2 separate regions of the Homo sapiens genome follow, and region 2 is linked to region 1. Evidence: fine-mapped expression QTL. A gene starts in region 1. The other region holds a variant in brackets. All regions are shown on one strand. Distances are from middle to middle. Region 1 holds the start of ARL15 (ARF like GTPase 15). Region 2 overlaps ARL15 (ARF like GTPase 15).

What was found.
Region 2: its variant is fine-mapped to the expression of ARL15 in monocytes after LPS (Fairfax 2014, PIP 0.95).

What each region holds. Positions count from the first base shown.
Region 1 is chr5:54,304,361-54,315,168 of GRCh38, forward strand. It overlaps ARL15 (ARF like GTPase 15), which reads right to left and starts at 6,213. Exons shown (of 5, transcript NM_019087.3): 1 at 6,072-6,213. The coding sequence starts at 6,119. RefSeq lists an enhancer at 312-975 and a cis regulatory region at 8,974-9,321.
Region 2 is chr5:53,938,066-53,948,873 of GRCh38, forward strand. The region is part of intron 4 of ARL15 (ARF like GTPase 15); the gene reads right to left. Among named protein-coding and RNA genes, the nearest start is that of MIR581, 8.1 kb to the right of the region's middle. The variant T/C (reference allele first, on the strand shown) is at 6,177.

The sequences.
Region 1 (10,808 bases):
TTCAATAAATGTTAACTGATTTTGCCCTCCTGATTATAACTCATATACTTATCTCCTCTCACCCCCGACCTGAGCACTGCCCACATGCCAACAAGCATGTGGCTTTGGCATCTTTCAGAATGCAAGCCCCTGGAGGGCATGAATCAAGGTCCCTATGTGTCCTCTCCTAGGGCTCATACTGTTAGACTGGAGCCACAGAAGTTTGGGAACCAGACTTAACACCTTTGTAGAAAAGTTCCTACCTAATGGTACGGATTTGCTCAAAACATTTTTGCTATATGAACTCCATATATGGTAGATCTGTTTATTGTGCTCAGATAATTTTTATCTTATAAATTATTAAGAAAGGAATATTTAATATGACTGCCTAATCCACTCGACATTTAGACTAAAAAGTGACCTACATTATCACTTTAAAGTTAGTCACAATAAATACAACTTACAATGTTCATAGATATTCAGGGTTAAAAACAACGAAACAATGTACTTTTTTTTTTATCAATAAAGAAGTTCAGTTCACAGATAACTGAACATAATATGAAATCACAAATGTACCTTCACTCCTCTTTTCAAGTAGGATCCTTTACAATTTCATAGTGCCTGTGGGCTCTACCCTTTGTAGCACATCATGGGTTTCTATTGTTGGTTAGTTAGCTGGTTTTTATCCTGCAAATGGTGACAGATTTGTGATGATCAACCCAATTCTCTCACCACATCTTCCCCACTGAGACATACATTTTTATGATGGCAGATACAGCCTATAACCAAGAAACTAAATAGGTCAAGTCCACCAGTCTATACAAAGAAATCTTATTAAACTAACCTATCAAATCTAATCTTATTAAATCCCAAACACTGGCAGGGCACGGTGGCTCACTCCTGTAATCCCAGCACTTTGGGAGGTCGAGGCAGGTGGATCACCTGAGGTCAGGAGTTTGAGACCAGCCTGGCCAACATGGTGAAACCCCGTCTCTACTAAACATACAAAAATTAGCTGGGCATGGTGGTGGGCACCTGTAATCCCAGCTACTTAGGAGGCTGAGACAGGAGAATCACCCCATTGCACTCCAGCCTGCATGACAAGAGCAAAACTCTGTCACAAAAAAAAAATAAATAAATAAAAAATCCCCAACACGGTACAGTAGTTTCCCCTCATCCATGGGGGATATATTCCAAGTCCCAGTGGATACCTAAAACCACAGATAGTACTGAGCTATCATAGAACTAACTAACATAGCACAGAGCACACTATATTTTTTCCTATACACACACACCTATGATAAAGTTTAATGTGTAAATTAGGCATAGTAAGTGATTAATAATAACTAATAATAAAAGTGAACAATGATAACAATATACAGTAATAAAAGTTATATGAATGTGGTCTCTCTCTCTCTTAAAATATCTTATTGTACTTTACTCACTTATTTTGAGACCTCGGTGGACCATGGTTAACTGAAACCTTGAAAAGTAAAACCGTGGATGGGAGGGTGGAGGCTACTATAAACAAATGCAATGAATATTAATTGACAATTAGCATCCAAGACTAATCAACCATTTTTACTTGTCACATTTTCAAGTCTAAGTTTATATTTTAGTTCACAATAAAACACACAAAATGAGAGAAATGTACTAGAAAGCAAAGAAGCACATCAGAAGCTACCCCCTCCCCTATGTGCCTTACTTAACCTGTCCTGCCACAGGTTCCTCTAGAGCCACACGACTGCCAGTCCTGCAGTCAAGGAGGATATTACAGCTGAGGGTTCATCCCGCATGACTTTCAGGGCCATGCAGAAAGTAAGGGCTCCATAAATATTTGTTGAATAGATAAATTATTCAAATGGGTTTTATTTTCGTAGCTTTTAAAAGATTCTTAAAAGAGTCTTGTGACTTCCTGCTTGTTGATTACAACTCCCAGTATTTCCATAAATTGAGACTAGTTTAAAAGGTATTTCAATACCACTAAGCAGTAACAGTCATTCTACAGGAGGTATAAAAGTAACATCAGCAACATAATCACAATACGTTAACTTTTTTTTTTTTTTTTTGTCTTGAGACGGAGTCTCACTCTGTCGCCCAGGCTGGAGTGCAGTTGTGCGATCTCACTGCAACCTCTGCCTCCTGGGTTCAAGCGATTCTCCTGCCTCAGCCTCCCAAGTAGCTGAGATTACAGGCATGCGCCACGACACCCAGCTAATTTTTCTATTTTAAGTGGAGATGGGGTTTCTCCATGTCAGCCAGGCTGGTCTCAAACTCCTGACCTCAAGTGATCCGCCTGTCTTGCCCTCCCAAAGTCCTGGGATTACGGGCGTGAGCCACCTCGCCCAGCCACACAATACGTTAACATTTTATATTTGAAAAGCAACGTACTGTTTACAAATGGCTTTCCCTCCACTATCTCATTTAATCATCATAGGTATTACACAGAGTACAACCAATTCTACCACTGTTGTTTTGATGGCGCAGAGGGAAAAAAGGTTAATTCCAGATCAATCATCACATGAGTCAAGACAGAAAATTTTGAACTGAAAGGAATCTAGAAGTTGATCTTGTCCAACCTCCCAGGAAAACTCGAGAAATGTGTTTTTCTCTTTCATTTTAACCTGACTATTTTCTCCTACCTTATCCAAAAAGCTCTGCACATTGTGTTACTAGTTCTACCTATGAGAAGAAAGAGTAAGATGCTGGTACTGCCTGTTGGGACAGCAGCTAAATGTTTACCCAGAGACTTGGCAGATGTAAACATGGCCTTTAAACCCCATCATGGAAAGGGGAAAAGTTGTGTGCCCTTCTAGGAAGATTCACTCATCAACTGGAAAACAGAGATTTTTATGTTTAAATTGCCACCCTGGCTAAAAGGATTATATCTTGATCATCTTCAAGTTAAGAGTAAAGGATACATTCTGCATTCCCCTGAACAAAACACCTAATCCAAACAGATTTTATCTTGTCTCAGTTTAAAAACTGGTGAAAAAAAGCAGAATTTTCCTTTCCATTTCATATTCATCTGATTCAACAAATAAAATATCGGGCCCTAACTATTAATACATGCCAGAAACCAAGTCAGGCACCGCACCAGGTGATACATCTAATTGATTAGGATTAGCAAATTTCTATTCTTTCTCTCGACTGAAATCAATAAAACCCTGTCTTAAATATTAAAGTACTATCCCTGTCCCTCACCTTGACTGTCACTTCTGAGAACATTTGTTTTAAGAAATCAACAGCGACCCGAAGATCAGTAGAGCTTCTTCATCTGTTTTAATATCTCAATCTTATTAAAAGGATTAATCCTGTTAAGACAAAATAGCACCTCCACCTTTCTCTCCCTTCTTCCTTTCCACTCTCCTCCAAATAAAAAGGTTAAGTGACGACATCCAGCCCAAAGAACAATGAACAATAGATACATACACACACACAGCTCTCTCTTCCAGTTTCCAACAGGAACAACACAAGAAAGTCAAATACTGATTAAAAAGAAATGACACACACCATCATTCTTGTCAGTGCATGGAAAGGGAACTTACTCTAATCCATTCAGCAAAATCTGGAGTCAAACTTGGAATGAAAGGAGCATTTTTTTTCCCTGCAAGGTAAGTAAAAGAACTCAGGAATTTTTTAAAAATAAAATAAGATACCAGATGCAAATAAATTGATTTCTATTCCTCAGAAATAGGGCTTTTAATAAACGCCACACAGAGTATGCATAAGCAAGCAAGTCAATCCGAAAGACAGGAAGAGAAAAATAATGTGTGGCACATCATTTTCTCTGAAAGTCGACAAGCAAAAGGTGAACACAAAAAGGCTACCTCGGGAGGGCTAGTTTTTTGTTTTGAGATGGTTTTTCTGTTTGTTTCCATCCAGTTTAATGCTAAAGAATTTTCTGAAATCTTTTCACAGGGGACACTTGGCACACTCACAAAAACTAAACTGTTTCCTTTAAGATTTCTTTTCTCACCTCCAAAGAGTAGCCACTGGCTTTTATGGGGTTGGTCACTGCACTTGTGAATTTTAGATGGATAAAGTGGCAAAATAATGATTTTTTTTAAATATAAAAGTAAAACTAAGATGTATGGCAAGTAAAGCTTTTTAAAAAGCCAAGTCAAATTTGAGGCCTGCTGATTTTGACACAAAGCTGTTAGTAAATTGGCAAAGAAATTAATCTGCTTTTAGGGTAAACTTGAGCCCAGGTAAAACAAAAAGGCCAAGTCAAATTTGTGACCTGTTGATTTTGACACAAAGCTGTTAGTAAATTGGCAAATAAATTAATCTGCTTTTAAGGTAACCTTGGGCCCACAAACATTCATCCACTCACCTTTAGACTATGCCTATCTAGAGGTTAGCCTGAGTAATTAACCAGAGTTATCAATTTTGTTTTCACTAAGCATTTTGATAGGTTTGGCACCTCAAAGACAGCTTTGTGATGCAATTTATAAATTTAAAACACATCCGGTAAATAAAGAAAATAATAAAATGTCAGAACCACCTGATTTTCTTTTTTAAGAACTATTTAAGTATTCAAAATTAGCTTTTAGTAGTACAGGCAATGTCACCCTTTCCTACTTGGTAATTATCCCAACAAACTTTCGCTTTAATTTAGGCAGACTGCAAGACAAAAACCATGTATTGTATTTTATAAGATAAATTACAAATTAAATCAGTTATTTAACTTAGAAAATAATCTTCTGGCAGCTCTCTTAACTTACAGGGCACCTTGTATTGTGAAGAATGTTCATAATCAGATAATCCCCGTAACCAGCTACAGTACTGGGTGAATAATATCCCTTTATCACAAAGATAAAGGAAGTTACTGCCATCAACAAATGAACAACAAAACAGAACTTGAATTCAGAATTTTAGATCCAGCTCCATTCACAAGGCTATGCATTAACTGCAGTCACCATCCTTTCCCACAAGACCATCAAGCTCTGAAGCATTAGGAGAAACATTTTCTTTATGTACACTAAAATAAGCCCAAATACACAGATAACAGCACAAAGCCGGTCCGGCGTTTCTTGGCCATCAAAGCATGCACAGACTTTCTCAGTACAGCCTTAAGTGTAATTCCTAGAAGGCACTGGCAAATCTCTGCCAGGCCAATCTGCAGTCGAAAACCGAGTGCATGTGTCCAACAAGATGACAGGAGGGTCAATGTTTCTAACCGTCTACTTCAACTCTGCATGGCAATAGCGGTTCTGCCCAACATGGTAAACACAATAATCGTATAGGATCGAACACAAGTCTCTGTAAATGAGGATCCCCTTAAACGCAAACAAGCAACTCTGGGGAAATATAATTTCTGGAACAAAACATGGTGCTCGCATAATTCCACAAAGACACATAGAAGTCCATTTTTAAAATGATGTTCGGTCCCAGCACTGTGCTGACACTTTTCCCACCTAAACTTCTCAGCACAAGCCTGGCCTAAACAGCCGGGTTCCAATCCGTGCACAGTGGAACCGCGGCACGCACCCAAGACCGGAATGGTGGGGCTATACCTGTCCCTACTCAGTCCTGTTCGTGCCAGCCTGCGAGGTAGTTTAGACCCGTCTGCTTTATGGTAATGTGCTTTTAAAACCCCGCCACGACCGAGGTCATAGCTTTAGAGATTTAATAACAATCAAATGACCAGGGCTGCTGGGCACTTAGTGAGCCATTCTGGTTATGGCTCTTTAATAGCACCTGGAGTTCTGCTCCAGGGAGAGAGGAAAACTCCTGCTCCCCCGGAAAGAAAGTCCTCTGCGGAGAGCGCAGAGGGAAGCCAGGAAGCCGATCGCGGGCAGGGGACGCGCCGCCGCGGCCGCCCCATCTCTCAAGCAGCCCCAGCGCGACCCTCGCCCTGCAGCCGTGCTGGCCCAGGCCGCACCTTTACCTGTCAGCTCCACCACCCACCCGCCCTGGAGGCTGCCCCTCCGAGTCCAGGGAAAGGCTTACCAGCCGGCTGCGGGAGAAAGAACCCCAGAGGCATCCTATCCCAAAGAAAGAAAGCAAAAAGGCTGCTCCTCAAGGCAGGGGGCCATCGGGCACGCCGAGATCCGAGAGGCGACATGCCACCCCTGCCCTGCACCTACCAGATAATCCATGTACAGAAACGCCTCAGTTATTCGGAGATCAGACATCCGGCAGCCTAAAGCATCCGGAACGGCTCCGAACCCGGAAAAAAAAAGCAGCGTCTCTGGCTGCGAGCGAGCAGCTCCTGAAAAAGCCAGCAACAGCGAAAATAGCCGAAAGCAGCCGACTAGCCGGAGATTACACAAGGGGCGCGGCGATTGGCCAGGCGGGCGGGCAGAAGGAAAGAAGCGTGCTCATTGGCTGCGGCGCCTATAAAAGGCAGGCCCCAGCTGGTGGCAGGAGAGAAACGCGGGAGTGGTGGGGGATGTGGGTTCCTGTGTGCTGAGCGGAGGAGCCGGGGTGGGGGCGGTGCAAGCGGAAGAAAGAGCCAAGAGAGCGGAAAATCGGCTGGTGCTGTCGCCGCCCGAGTTTTGTGTTTCCACAGCTTTCCAGTTGGGTACAACGGAGCCGAACTCCGTGTTCCCGGGCTGGAGAGCCTTGGTGTCCCCGCCAACCCCCAGTAGGAAGCGAGCGCTGTAACATGGGAGGCGTGGTCGCCACTGATCTTGTCTCCCCCCAGAGCCTTCCTAAAGGCTCTGCCGCCACGAGACTGCACCACCGGGAAAGAAGTGTGTGAAAGTGTACTCCGTAAACAGGCAATCCTGTACGCGACTTAGGGGCAGAAAGACCCTCCGCACTTTTATCATTTGAAAGTAAGGTGGACGATTCCAGCCTGGTGTCCCTGAGGGTACACACAGGCCCCCCGCGCAGCCAGAGGTGACTCAGGAACCCCCCTTCCAACCCCTGCGTAGAACGCCGAACAGTCTTCGGAGAATTCGCTTTCCTCCACGTGAAAAGGAAAAGAAAAACATTTGAGGAGTCGCAGTAGTCACTTGTACTCCCCAAACACACGGGAAGAAGTTGATCAGTTTGCATGCTTGGAGTCAAATTACGCTCAGCACAAATCCAACGCCCCTGAATTAAATGAGCAGTAGAAGCTCTCTGCAAAAAACACAACAGTATTTGTGACCCGGTATTATTTCAGGAGGTAAAAACATCTATAAGCAGATGCATTTGGGACGTATGCATTTCCTGGTAATGTCAATATCGCATTAAGCTAGTGGGTTTGGGCAGGGAAAGCCTGAATCGGACAAGAAGCTGGCTTTTTTTTTTTTTAGGCTATAAATAACCAGACCATGCCAGACACATGTTCTTAGGCTATGTTCTTAGGCTCAGGTGATTGGAGTGCCCCCCCCCCCATCCCCACCCTCAGGGCTTAGGGAGAATGGAAGATAAGGTGGATGCTGTCACCTGTATTAATAGTTAGGGCTTGCATACATACAGTAAAGTTTCAAGAGTGAAACTTCATCGACTGAACTCTTTATGAAGTGACTGCCTGACTCTACACGCGATGTTTTAGGAGTTGAATTTTTACTTTCCCCCTGACACCTTTCTTTTTTGTATCCTCAAGAAACAAATTTCCGTACCGTAAGTTTACCTGGGACTACCAAAACAGTTCTGTTAGATGACCGTGGAATTCACCCCAAATGTGCACATAACCAATAAGGGCGAGGCAGCCCCCTAGAGGGAGCTGTAGGTTGATGAGCCAAGTGATTTTAGGTATGCAGTCTAATTTCCAAACCTGTTTCCTCAGCTGCAAAACGAGAATTCCTACAGCCAGAAAGTTGTGAGGGTTTGGGCGGGGGGCGGGGTTGGGGAAGTTGTTTTTGTTTTTTTGAGACAGGGATTCTCTCTGTCGCCCAGGCTGGAGTGCAGTGGCGCGATCTCGGCTCGCTGCAACCTCCGCCTCGCCGGCTCAAGCATCCTCCCACCTCAGCCTGCAGAGTCGCTGGGACCACAGGTGTGCACGACTACGCTCGTCTAATTTTTTGTATTTTAAGGGTAAAGACAAGGTCTCACTATGTTGCCCAGGCCTGTTTCTAACTCCTGGACTCAAGCAATCCGCCCACCTCGGCCTCCCAAAGTGCTATTAGATCCAATTTTGATTTTCCTTGGCATTCTGTTAATTCAAACACATGTAGGTTTAGAAGAGATTTTCACCTAGATTTTGGAGGAGATGGACGTCCATAAACGTACACTCTTTAGCACAATTTGTTTGAAACTAATTTGGAAAACAAAATCTCTCAATGAGCAGAAATAGTCATGGAACATTTTTTGTTTGTTTTGCTTTTCTTCGTGAATAAGCATATTTAAAATAAGATAAAGGGCTTGAGTTAGCAAAGAGACACCTTATGGACCATTGTCTTAGTGATAAATGATGTGTGGGCTACTGCCCAGTCAGGCTTTCGAGAGGCCTATCAGTCTCTATGCAGAGGAGGATAGCCACTCAGAAGCAGGTGGCTTCTGCCTTTCCTTTAAAAGTTAAGCTTAGGGAAAGATAGTCCTGAACATGTCATTAGGGTCAGTATGGTTCTTGCTGCCTCTAAGAATTAGTATATGGGGCCAAAGCAGGGAGATGAAAGAATATGTTCAAGGAAAAGTTCCAAAGACTGCACCATAATATTCACTTTATTCCACACAATTTGCACATTCATTGTGACTGGCATCAATGAAAACCTTGTAGTCAGTGTAATGTATTAAAAAATCACATATTGCATTTTAGGAAAGAGTCCTTATAAAACAACAACAACAACCTGTAGATTTTGAACTCCATATGGAGCACATTTTTTCAATTAGATGTTTTCTGAGATGTCAGTGAGTCCGCCCCTACAGAGGAAAGAGGCTAACTTGACTGAATTGGTATGAACAGATAATACACTACCCACTACATGAAGCTGCAGTCATAGCTGATAGGGTTGGTAGCACCTATTGAGGTAATCACCTCAATACATGCTTTTTAAAAGAGTGTAGAGAAGTTAGAATGCATTTAATCAACCTACCATACTGTATGCCAAGTAACAGACTGCAATCCAGAACAAGACATGATCTCATTAACCTAGTTCTGCCCTTGCTGTCAGTGAAAAGAATGACCCTCTTCCAGATGCGGAAGAAACATGTAAACTCATGAGGCAATTGCATTAGTGCATAGGTTTTGAGGAAAGAGGCTGATACGGTTTGGCTGTGACCCCACCCAGATCTCATCTTGAATTCCCACGTGTTGTGGGAGGGACCCGGTGGGAGGAAGTTGAGTCAAGGGGGCGAGTCTTTCCCATGCTGTCCTCATGATAGTGGTAAGTCTCATGAGATCTGATGGTTTTATTAGGAGGAATTTCCCTGCACAAGCTCTCATTCTCTCTTGCCTGCCGCCATGTAAGACATGTCTTTGCTCCTGCTTCACCTTCTGCCATGATCATGAGGCATCCCCAGCCATGTGGAACTGTAAGTCCATTAAACCTCTTTCTTTTCTAAATTGCCCAGGTTCAGGTATGTCTTTATCAACAGCGTGAAAACAGACTAATACAGAGGCCATCACTGTTGCTTGTCAAAAGCAAAGAGAAATTATTTTGACAGTCCATACTCTAAAATTCCATAAAGGCTGCTGGCTAGCCAAATTTGGAGGAAAATTTTTTGTTAAACTGTCACTTGCAAGGAATGAAAACAGAAATGCATTTTTGCAACTTGGTCTCCCAACTTTCCAGAAAAATCAACATATTAGTGGTTATTTCCAGCTATTCTTTTGTTGTTTCCAAGGAGAATACTGCCTTCACTAGTTTTGTATCATGCATACACTATCTCACTGAAACTTTTCATAAATCTTTAATGGATACATAAAACTATTGTAAAAATGTACTACTGTGTTAACAAATCCTTTATTAGTTACTACTATTATAAATATTACAGTGAATGTTTGCTTATAAAACTATCCACATCTTATTATCCTAAGAATAATTTCTAGTAATAGAATTACTGGTACAAAGAGTATGAGCACTTCTTTTCTTTTTTTTTTTTTTTTTTTGAGATGGAGTCTCGCTCTGTTGCCAGGCTGGAGTGCAGTGGCACAATCTTGGCTCACTGCAACTTCCGCCTCCCGGGTTCAAGTGATTCTCCTCCCTCAGCCTCCTGAGTAGCTGGGACTACAGGCACACGTGACCACACCCAGCTAATTTTGTATCTTTTTTTAGTAGAGACGGGGTTTCACCATGTTGGCCAGGATGGTCTTGATCTCCTGACCTCGTGATCCGCCTGCCTCAGCCTCCCAAAGTGCTGGGATTACAGGCGTGAGCTATCACGCCCAGCTGAGCACTTTTAATACTCAGTTTTGACCTAGCTTATGTAGTCTTCTTCCTTCTACCCCCCAGCTCCAAAGTAGGGAATGATTATCTTGTCTCATCTTTGCCTTAATATTATTCCTTAATAGCTGAAAGATGGTATCTTTCATTATAATGACTCTTAAATCATGGACACTTCTTTTTCAGAAAAAGTGGTCAGCTCTGCAGAGGTCATCAGGCACTTTTTCTCACTTACCACATCCAATAACTCCTGTGACTTTAAAATTCTCTTCTGAGTCCTTTTTCCCTTTCTCTCCAGTGGATACCTTGACACCCACCTCTGATTTACCCCAGTCCTCTTCTCTGCTTCCTAAACCTAAATGAAGTATCACTGTGTCCCAGAAGATGAACTTCATCAGAACAGGGTGTCCCCACATGAAGCCGCTAACAGAGCTTGATTCATAAATGGAATCAAGCCAATGATTATTGAATGAGGTCAGAGGTTGGAATTAGAGTAGGGTTTTCTGCTCTTAGCATGGTGACCTACTTGCAACTCAAACTAGAGGAACCCCTCACTGAAATAGCTAA
Region 2 (10,808 bases), 370 kb before region 1:
TCTTGATCCAGAGGCTTGTTAAAATCAACACCCTCAACTGATATGGGGTTCAACATTTAGAAGAACCTACAAACATGCAAAATGTTTTATTTTGCTTTTACTTGTATGGCTCTTCTAGTCTTTTGTTGGGGAGGGTGGTTAAAAAAGGAGTTTATCCATATTTCTCCTTGGTTAACATTCTGCTAAAAAAAAAAAAATCAAAATTTTAAACTGGCTTATAATGCCTGTGACACCAAGAATACTTAGTGAGCAATTAAACTACAGCACTATATGTCTACTTTAGGGAACTTCCCTACCACATGTCTGGATAAATATTTTTACTTTCTTGTACAAGGAATTAACGAATCAAATCACATTTCTAAAATAGTCTGCACTCATTGTCTTACCAATAACCTTTTCAGTATTTTGCATACATCAATCTTTTGTCCAAGATCTTCCAACTGTCTCCTTTACCAGGTTGACACCCAAAATGCAATTCTGGCCGGGTGCTGTGGCTCACGCCTGTAATCCCAGCACTTGGGAGACCAAGACAGGCAGATCACTTGAGACCAGGAGTTCGAGACCAGCCTGGCCAACATGGCAAAACCCTGTCTCTACTAAAAATATAAAAATTGGCCGGGTGTGGTGCCATGTGCCTCTAGGCACATGTTACTTGCAAGTTCCAGTTACTTGGGAGGCTGAGGTAGGAGAATCGCTTGAACCTGGGAGGTAGAGGTTGCAGTGAGCCGAGATCATGCCACTGCACTCCAGCCTGGGTGACAGAGAGAGACTCTGTCTCAAAAATAAATAAATAAATAAAATGCAATTCTTATCGGTGTTTACAGTATGCATCACTTGGCAGTCTGGCCATATTAGCGTCAGTTTACGACACAAATTTGTTAGCATCATAAAATTACGCTAAAATCCTTTAAGCTATTATAGATTTCCTCTCAGTTACTGTGAAATCAACAAACAATCCATCACTTCCTCTTAGATTCTCACCCAAAAGATATCTTGGTTGCATTTCTTCTAGAACATACTTCCCTCAACTACCCAAATTAAACATATTTCAAGCATCATTAATTGATTAGATTTACAAAGAGCTCTGAATGAGTTCAAAGGCACTCTGGATGAGTGAAAAGGCAATTGTTCATTTTCTTCAAGTACCTTCACCTTTCCTTTCACTCGGGAACGAATGTTTTCTAATAATTTTTCTTATGAAAGTGTTACCTATCTTCTGTCTCTTCCCCTAGTCTTATATTTCATGCTAATGCATGCATTTCAGTTTCCATTTTACTGACATTACTGTTTGTTATAATGTTATTAAAATTCTTCTCTTCACAAATTTTTGGACTGACGAAAATATTCAGTCATTACATTTCCGTTTTGCAAATAGCAAGTTAGATGCTGGGCCGGGCGCGATGGCTCACGCCTATAACCCCAGCACCTTCTGAGGCCGAGGTGGGTGGATCATGAGGTCAGGAGATCAACACCATGCTGGCCAACATGATGAAACCCTGTCTCTACTAAAAATAAAAAAATTAGCTAGGCGTGGTGGGGCGCGCCTGTAGTCCCACCTACTCTGGAGGTTGAGGCAGGAGAATTGCTTGAACCCGGGAGGTGGTGGTTGCAGTGAGCCGAGATCCCGCTACTGCACTCCAGCCTGGAGATAAAGCGAGACTCCGTCTCAAAAAAAAATAAAATAAAATAAAGAAAGAAAGAAAAAGAAAGTTAGCTGCTACATCACTCACTATTCCAATGTTCCTTACATTTGAAATCTGTAGATTAATAATCATAAAAGAATAAAATTAAACACTGATTCAAACAAATATGAACAGACGTTTGTAACTTAGGTGTTATCCAGAAAAAACAACAACAACAACAACAACAACAACAAACAACTTTGATTTTTGCTTGAAAATAAAGTCCTGAACTTTTTTTTTTTTTTTTTTGAGACGGAGCCTCGCTCTGTCGCCCAGGCTGGAGTGCAGAGGCGCGATCTCGGCTCACTGCAAGCTCCGCCTCCCTGGTTCACGCCATTCTCCTGCCTCAGCCTCCCGAGTAGCTGGGACTACAGGTGCCTGCCACGGCTAATTTTTCTGGTATTTTTAGTAGAGACGGGGTTTCACCGTGTTAGCCAGGATGGTCTTGATCTCCTGACCCCGTCATCCGCCCACCTTGGCCTCCCAAAGTGCTGGGATTACAGGCGTGAACCACCGCGCCCGGCAGTCCTGAAGTTTTAAAACTAGACCAACCAGTGCTATGATACTGCTTAATTCCCATAGGCATGTAGCAAATTTGTATTTTCTTCATTTGCTGAAAGAAAAAAGAAAAACACCATAACCTTTTGTCTCTACCTTTGAGCAATTTAATAAAATTAAACTTTGAAAGAGATTAAGAGTAGTAATCAAAGTTCCAAATATAGCTAAGAAAAAGCTAACTACTCTGGTGGAAGTTACGTATATTTGAAGCATTTTTCCTCAATATAACATGGAATTAATAGGAATTCACTCATTATGCATGTTCTAGTATAACCTTAAATGCCCACAGGTTATTCCTAATTTTCTGGAGAAATAAAAGTCACATGGCATTTTTCTATGCTTAAACAGAGAACAATTATGGATTTTTTAAGAAGGGAGAGAAGGAAACATGCATACTTCACTTATGCCCATAACTTCTAGAGCTTTTATGTTTCATATGAAAAACAGAAAATACATTTCTAATGTGTCATCAATTCTTTTGAACTTCTAATAATTTGAATGTACATTTTATAGCAAATAGCTTAATGATCACATCATGCAGCTGACTTAATTCTCAAAATGTCTTTGTAGTTTTATTATTCTGTAAAAGCAAACTGTTTCACCAAAAATTGTACTAGGTCAAGCTTTTACAAGAAAAATATTTATTATATTGTCCATTAAAGCTTACCAATTAATTACCAAGTTTAGTCAATGGGGTTCCTTTGAACTGCCTGTGAGATGAGTATTTTATTACTTATTATTATAATAATGAGTAGATTTGAAAGATTTTTACCTTACAAAATATCAATGGTTTATTTCACAATGTTATTTGTTAAACCAAAGCATTAGTCATTCTCTTCTTCTACTTTTCTCCTTCTTCCCCTTTCCCTTTACTTCTGTATAAGCTTTTTTAATATTTAAGATATGAAGAAATCCAACATTATACATCATTAAACCATGGCCAAATTCACAATAAAATGTGCCTGCAATCCTTTAAAAAAAGGATTATGTATACAGAACTACGTGGAAAACTTGCTGTTCTCAGAAAAGAACAGAATGAAACAGATAATAAATAAATTTCTATATCCAAGGTAGATCTTTCTTTTTACAGGAGGTCGGGTAAGTTCATACAGAAAAACTCTACAGAATGGGCCTGTCGTTAAAAATAAACGAAGCAAGGATTATTGGGTTTAGATCATTTTCTTAAGAATCAAAAAAGTTTTTCTAGGGCTTTGGCTAAGTACATGAAGATAAATGATGCCCAATTCTGGTTTTGCCAAATAACACAAGTCTTTTCAGAAACTACAAATTCCAGTGGCTCTGGCAGAATGAATATCAACCTAGGTCAGTTCTCCATAACCAGAACCCACAAATTTGCCAGTCCACTTCACATCTCAACTATTAGATAATAGCAGGCAAGATGCATGTTCCTGGTGGGCACAGTTGTTTATGTGGTGATTCTTCTTTGAGTTGTTGGTGTTTTCTCGCTTTCTTCCCTCCCTTCCTCCCTTTCCTCCCCTCCCCTCCACCTAATAGAGGGCCCACCTCTCTACAGGGTGCTCACCTCTAACTGTCTCCAGCAGTAGAAAAGGAAGTCAGAAAGCTAAGCAAGGCCTGGGTCAGGAGAGCTATTTATTTTCATGATGAGAAACCACCGCAGGGCTCTGGGAAGGGAAGTGGCACAGTCTGATTTATCTATTTAAAAAATCCATGTAAAGAGTATGGGGCGGGCAGGGGCAAGAATGGAAGCAGAGATGCCAGGTAGGAAGCAATTACAAGAATCCAGAGAGGAATGGTTGCAGGTTGCTTGGACTAGGGTGGTAATACTGTAGGTTCAGGATATATTTTGAAGATAAAGGCAACTGGTCTTGCTCATGTGGGCACTGAGAGAAACTGGGGCCAGGGAACTAGGTAAATTGTGGGGTGGGTGGGGAAGAGAGGGAAGGATGCTACTTTGACTGAGATGGAAAACAATGGGGGAGAAGTTGGGTTTGAGTTGTGTGGGGGCTTCAGGAATCTTTTGACCTTAAATGTAAGATGGCATCAGACATACCAGTGGCACTAGAAGCTGTGGAAGCACAGGAATAATCTAGAAATCGGTTGAGAGCTTTGGCTAGAGATTTAAATGTAGGACTCATCAGTTTATAGGCATCATTGGTGTATTTAAAACCATGGACCAAGGACCAGGCGCGGTGGCTCATGCCTGTAATCCCAGCATTTTGGGAGGCCGAGGCAGGTGGATCATGAGGTCAAGAGATCGAGACCATCCCGGCCAACATGGTGAAACCCCGTCTCTACTAAAAATACAAAAATTAGCTGGGCATGGTGGCATGCGCCTGTAATCCCAGCTACTCAGGAGGCTGAGTCAGGAGAATCGCTTGAACCCAGGAGGTGGAGGTTGCAGTGAGCCGAGATCGCGCCACTGCACTCCAGCCTGGGTGACAGAGCGAGACTCCATCTCAAACAAAACAAAACAAAACAAAACAACCATGGGAAAGGTGAGATGACCTAGGATATGAGTGTAGGTGGAGAAGAGATTAAAAACAAAATGAGGCCCGCATTCCACTATTTAGAAGTCAGGACATGTGAGGGTGTGATAAGCAGCCACCAGTGATGAAAGTGCTTCAGGAAGGAGGGATGGATCCGCTGTGGATTGCGTAGTAGTTGAGTCATGAGAGAACTGATTGGCATGACTTCAAGAGGGAAAATGGGAGGGGAGGAAATGGAGGCAACAAAGAGACAATAAATGTTCTCTCTAGGAGCTTCACGATAAGTGTGTGCTTGCAGAGCCAAGAAAGAAACTTGCTGGAGGAGGGCTGGTCAGTGGGGAGTGGGCGGGGGTGTTGGGGAAGATAAGAAGGGATTTTTAAAAGATTTTAACGGGCTATGTATATAATTTTAACACTCTGTATCCTGATTGTAATAATTCACTAGAGAGAAGAACAAAGTGATGATGCCAGAAAGAAAATGTAACTTCAGTAGGTGAAAGGAAAAAGGATATGGTAAGAAAGTGTGTGTAAAAGGTTAGTAGATTTTTTGTTTTGATGATTTTTATTTTCTCAGGGAAACAGGGAGTGAGGTCATCCACTGAGAAGGTGGAAGGGATACTGAAGGTTTGAGAGAGGAGGAGAAACTATGAATGAGTCCTTCCCAGAGAAGTGACCAGCTAAGATTACTAGAAAATTTGGGGCCCCTTGAGCCTTATGGTCATCAATTTAATAAGCCAGTCAGGAGTAGTATTGCTGGTTTTTCCTTCTGTCATGTTCAGTTTTTCTGATGCAGGTATGGAGTAAGTGAGTTGAAAAGACAGGAATTGTCAAAGACAGTGCTTAAAGATGAGGTTTCACAGGTGGTACAGCTACTTATAATGGCCAAGTCTGGTTGAGAATGGCCTGAGTGGGTGGCTGAGATAGAGTGAAAGAAAGATTGTTGGAAGGAAAGTGCTCAAGGAACTAAGAGAACCAAAGCTGGATAAATTTTCTACCTGAGAGCTGGAGTTTCCAAGAATGACAGACAGCCATGGGAAGAAGAGGTGTCAAACCAGCGCTCAAAAGCTTCTATGAATGATGGTCAGAATCAACAGGAAGCTGTACAAAATGTGTCCAGAACAGTAGTAGGTAGAATAGTGCAATGGCTTAAAATTAAAAGGAAATGGAATTTTTAATTGCAAGATAAATGGTCTGGAAGTGGCAGTAAGGAACAAGAAAGACACTCATCTCAACTCTGGACCCCATGTTACATGGGCATGGGAGATAAAAATCACAGCAAGTGAAGGATAGAAAATGAATTAAGATCCTTCTAGGGATCTTACAGGGCCTTAGAACTACATGGTAAACACCACCATGTCTGGCACAGAGCCAAAAACACAACAGGGTTTGAACAAATACTTGGGTTTTAACTAAAAGGAGTTTAAAAGTATCATCAATTCTGTAGACAAACAGCCTAGATATGGGGCTT[T/C]AGAAAAAGTCCACAAGGGAGTGGTTAAACAGCTTGAGCAAGAGACTTGGAATATATGAGAAAAGGGATGAAATAAAGAAATGACCTGGCCGGGCACAGTTGTTCGCACCTGTAATCCCAGCACTTTGGGAGGCCGAGGCAGGAGGATCGTTTGAGCCCAGGAGTTTGAGACCATCCTGGGCAACACGGTGAAACTTCATCTCTACAAAAAATACAAAAAATTTGCTGAGTGTGGTGGCATGCGGGAGGCTGAGGTGGGAGGATCACCTGAGTCTGGGAGGTTGAGGCTGCAGAAAGCTGTGATCATGCCACTGCACTCCAGCCTGGGTGGCAGAGTGAGACCCTGCCTCAAAAAACAAACAAACAAACAAAAAACAAACAACAAACCTGATCACCTACTGAGTAGCTCCCGACTGCACTCTCAGCTATTTTCTATCCTACTACCTTATCCTTTTCCTTGATTTCTTTGCTAATTATTTGTCTGCTTTTCTAGAATTGCTAATTTTCTGATTCACTACAAATGTATCAGCTTAATTACTATTTCTTTTGCTCGTCACTATATACCTAAGGCCTAGCAAAGTGTCTGGCACATATAATGTCCTCAAAGAATACCAAATAAACAAAATAGAGAAAAGCATGGTTAGAAGTAGCCCAATTAAGTTACACTATGCAGAGACAGGCCAATATAGGTTCAATACTTCTAAGGATCCCATCTTTGGGATGGAATTGACATTTAGAAAGAAGGCAGTGAAAAACAAATACTGATTCCTGGGCAACAGATCAGGGAGGCTGCATTCTTGTAGGCAGAGGGCTAAACAGCACTTGACTAAGGAGTAAGCTTGGAGTGGCTGAGAGAGATGTGAGTCAGCTTCCTCGTCTCTACTCAACCATCTTCAAAGTCCTGCCTCATGTGACCTTATTCCTACGATGATCCATTCTGTCCACAGTGGCCTTTCATGTTCTGTACTTCCTGATCTAACAGACAATCGCTATTTCCACTGTACTCCTAGCTTCTACATCACTATTACGTTGCAACTGTGAACACGGACATGTTTGTCGTTTACTGGGTATGTTTACTGAGTAGTTTAGACGTACATTGACATCAGACAGTTTATCTTTTAGATTATAAACTTGTAGAAGCAGGGGTTTGTAGTCTCCATAATGTAATCTTTGGTTCGTTAACTCAGTTTGTTTAGGTCAAGGGTGAAGGTTTAACCTCCAAACGAGTTATTTAGTTTTGCTTTGCTCCACTTTCTCAAACTACCTCCAACTCAGGCATTCTCAGCACACTGAGAAGTGTTAAACCAAGACAGAATAAGAGAAAAAATTCACATTTGAATGAAAATTCCAAACTTTACAATTGCAAACACCATACATTAAAAAGAACAGCAGTGAAATTCCAAAGCACCTGAAAAATGAGTTGCAAAAACAAAAAGGTTTATATAATCTAAAATTCCCGACTGCAGAAATATGTAAATATATATTTAAACTTGAAATATATGGCCATTGCTATTAAATGTAAAGTCAAGTAAATTTATGTTAAAGTAAAATGTAGTGTTCTCATTCCACTAACCATAAACATAGAAGTTTAGAGCTGGGAAGGACCTTGCAGGCCAGGCCCCTTATTTTGTAGACGAAGTAACTAAAGCCTAGAAGGGTTGCTGAGGTACCCAGCATCAGACAGCAGCACAAGTCAGCAGCACTGAAGTGGAGACACCACAGGCTTTGGAGACAGATCCATCTGCATTTGACCCTGATATTCCACCCTTTAGCTGTGTGGCATTGGGAACCCTCACTCTTTCAAATTTCAGTTTCCTCATGTATGAATGAGGGATCATATCACTATGGTTTATTGAGCAGGCCTGTAAAGATTAAAAGTCTTAAACCTGAAGTGCCTAGCACAGAACTTTTGGGCTAAAATGACATAATAGGCTGCGCACCATCGCTCACACCTATAATTCTAGCACTTTGGGAGGCCAAGGCAGGTGGATCACCTGAAGTCAAGAGTTTGAGACCAGCCTGGCCAACATGGCGAAGCCCCATCTGTACTAAAAATACAAAACCCAGGCGTAGTGGCATGCAAGTGTAATCCCAGCTCCCCGGGAGGCTGAGGCAGGAGAACTGCTTGTACTTGGAAGGCGGAGGTTGCAGTGAGCTGAGATCACACCACTGCACTCCAGTCTGGGCGACAGAGCAAGACTCGGTCTCAAGAGGAAAAAAAAAAAAAAAAAAAAAAAAAGACATAATAAAGCCAGATTATAGAATCTTTCCCCTAATGGAATAAACTTAAAATCGCTGTTAAAAGAAAAAAAAGTCAAAAATGTTACCAGAGACCAACCAAGTTAAAGAGAACATCATACCATATTCTGTATAAGCGGTGCCCATGAATAGAAGATTCCTAGGTAAAAAGGGATTGCATTGGAGGTGGGAAAGTTAGGTGGCCAAAATCCTGAAAACTATCATTAACAGCCCCCAATTTGGGGAAAATGGATCTAAGCTAGCATTTTGGCAGCCCAGGGAGGAGATGGAAAAATCCATCCATAGTAAAAAGCTCTTCCTGCCATCACAGGAATCTCCTCAGACACAGAAAAGCAAATCAGAACTCACCATTTTGGCTTTTTATGCCTGGGAGGAAAGGAGAAGAAAAGGGAAATGAGTCATAATCAAGCAAAGCTAATTAATTACAGCCAAACTCTATTATAAAGCTGTATGTAGGAGTCTAACAAATTCAATCATGTATGTGGGATCTCATTGTTGTAGAGCTAATAAAACAAGGACAAGGGCTGGGATGAAGGGAAGGAGATAGCCAATTGCCAGTTGTGTTAAATCTTAGTTGGTGCTAACATGAGGTTCGCTAGTCTGTATCAGAGTTTACTGTATCTTAAACAGTAAACAAAGGTCTAGCCAAAGAGAAAAATAAATAAGGGTGTGTGTGTGTGTGTGTGTGTGTGTGTGTGTGTGTGTGTGTGTGTGTGTGTGTTGAGGGCTGGGAGAGAAGGAGAATTAAAGGCAGAAAATTCCCAGGTGAGGTTCCCTTCCCTGTCTGTGGATTAATAATGCCATGGTAAAAGCATACAGGTTTCTCCTTTCTCCATTAGCTGGAAAGAGATAAAAACACTTGCTGGGGGAAAGATAGGATGTGGCAAGGGAAGGAGACACCTGAGGCTGACATTCTTAGCCAAAACTAATCAAACAAATGGCTTGCAAGCACCTCCTTGAATTGGAGGAATAATCCAAAGCCCCGTATCTCACTCCTCCAGAGATATATCTGTGAATATGTAGAGCAAACCCTGATGCAGGGCATTTAATACAATTACTGAGGAAGAGCAAAGATCCTACCAACAACTGGGATTGTAGGATCCCAGCACGCAGCCCAGCTCAACTAACTCTACCTCATCTCCAGCATGTGGGTCTTCAGGTCGACTCCTCAAACTGAATGCAGCTCTGGGACTAGACCCCGAGGTCTAATTAGAGACGGTTAAAAAGCAAGACAAGGACAATTCACCAACATTAGAGAATGAAGAAAAGATCCTGAGTGAGTTGTTCATATTCAACTTAAGTTTTACAAAGAGAAAAGACTATGACAACTAAGCAGGACTCCCAGAGCAAAGAAAAAAATGAAAGAAAGGGGGAGGGCTGGGAAGGAAGCAAGAATCTAGTTTAGAAGAAAACAGCCCTCTCCACCTTCCTCCAAAAATCTCCGTGAGTGCATTACACTACAAGATTAAAGAAAATAGAAATTAAATGAGACACCAGTGGAAAAAAATGAGATAAAAAGGGAGGTTGCAGAAGGAAACAATAAATTAAACAATAACACTGTAGAACTAATAAACAAATTAGAAAGAAAAGAAATAGAATAGGCACAGGTAAAAAATAGTGACATAGCAAAAACCCTTGGAAACTTGAGATAATGACAGTGAATACGTAAGATGATGATATACAAATTAAGGCAATTTGGGAACAGAGGACAGATAATGACAAACAAATGTAAGTGTCCAAAATAAAGTTGGAACTACTGTAGTAGGTTCCTTAACAAATATTAGTAAACTTTACCCCACCTAACTCCTATCATCATGTATGTAAAAACAGTGTTTTATGGTTCTTTTGGTCTTCTATATGACTACCTACAGAAGCAAACAATAAAAATGAACTGATAGGTCTTGTAAAATTTGCCCTGATGTCTATTTTGAAGTGTTATAAATTCGGTATTTGCGTAACAGTGGTTCTCCTGGAGAAAATCATTAGAAATTTGATCCTACACCCTATTCTTATTCACTGAACAGAAAAGAGAAATCTGGAAGCAATCTGGTAATATAAAACTATTAGTTTATGCTGTTGGAGCCTTTATCTAACAAATTTCCAAAACAACTACAGTCGTTAAAATAGTGAAATTATTATTTCCAAGTGGACATATATTTTTATTAAAAGAACAATTAAGACAGTTTATTTGATATATTTTAACACTTTTCATTAACCAGGGGTCATACACTTGCTAAAATACTTTTCTGGAAGCACAGGTAATATTCAGAACAAGAGTCACAATTGTGCCCACTCAGCATTCCTTCACATTGATCAGAACTCACTTCACTGAGAAGTACTGCACTAAAGGATTTAATGAGACATGCTACTGAA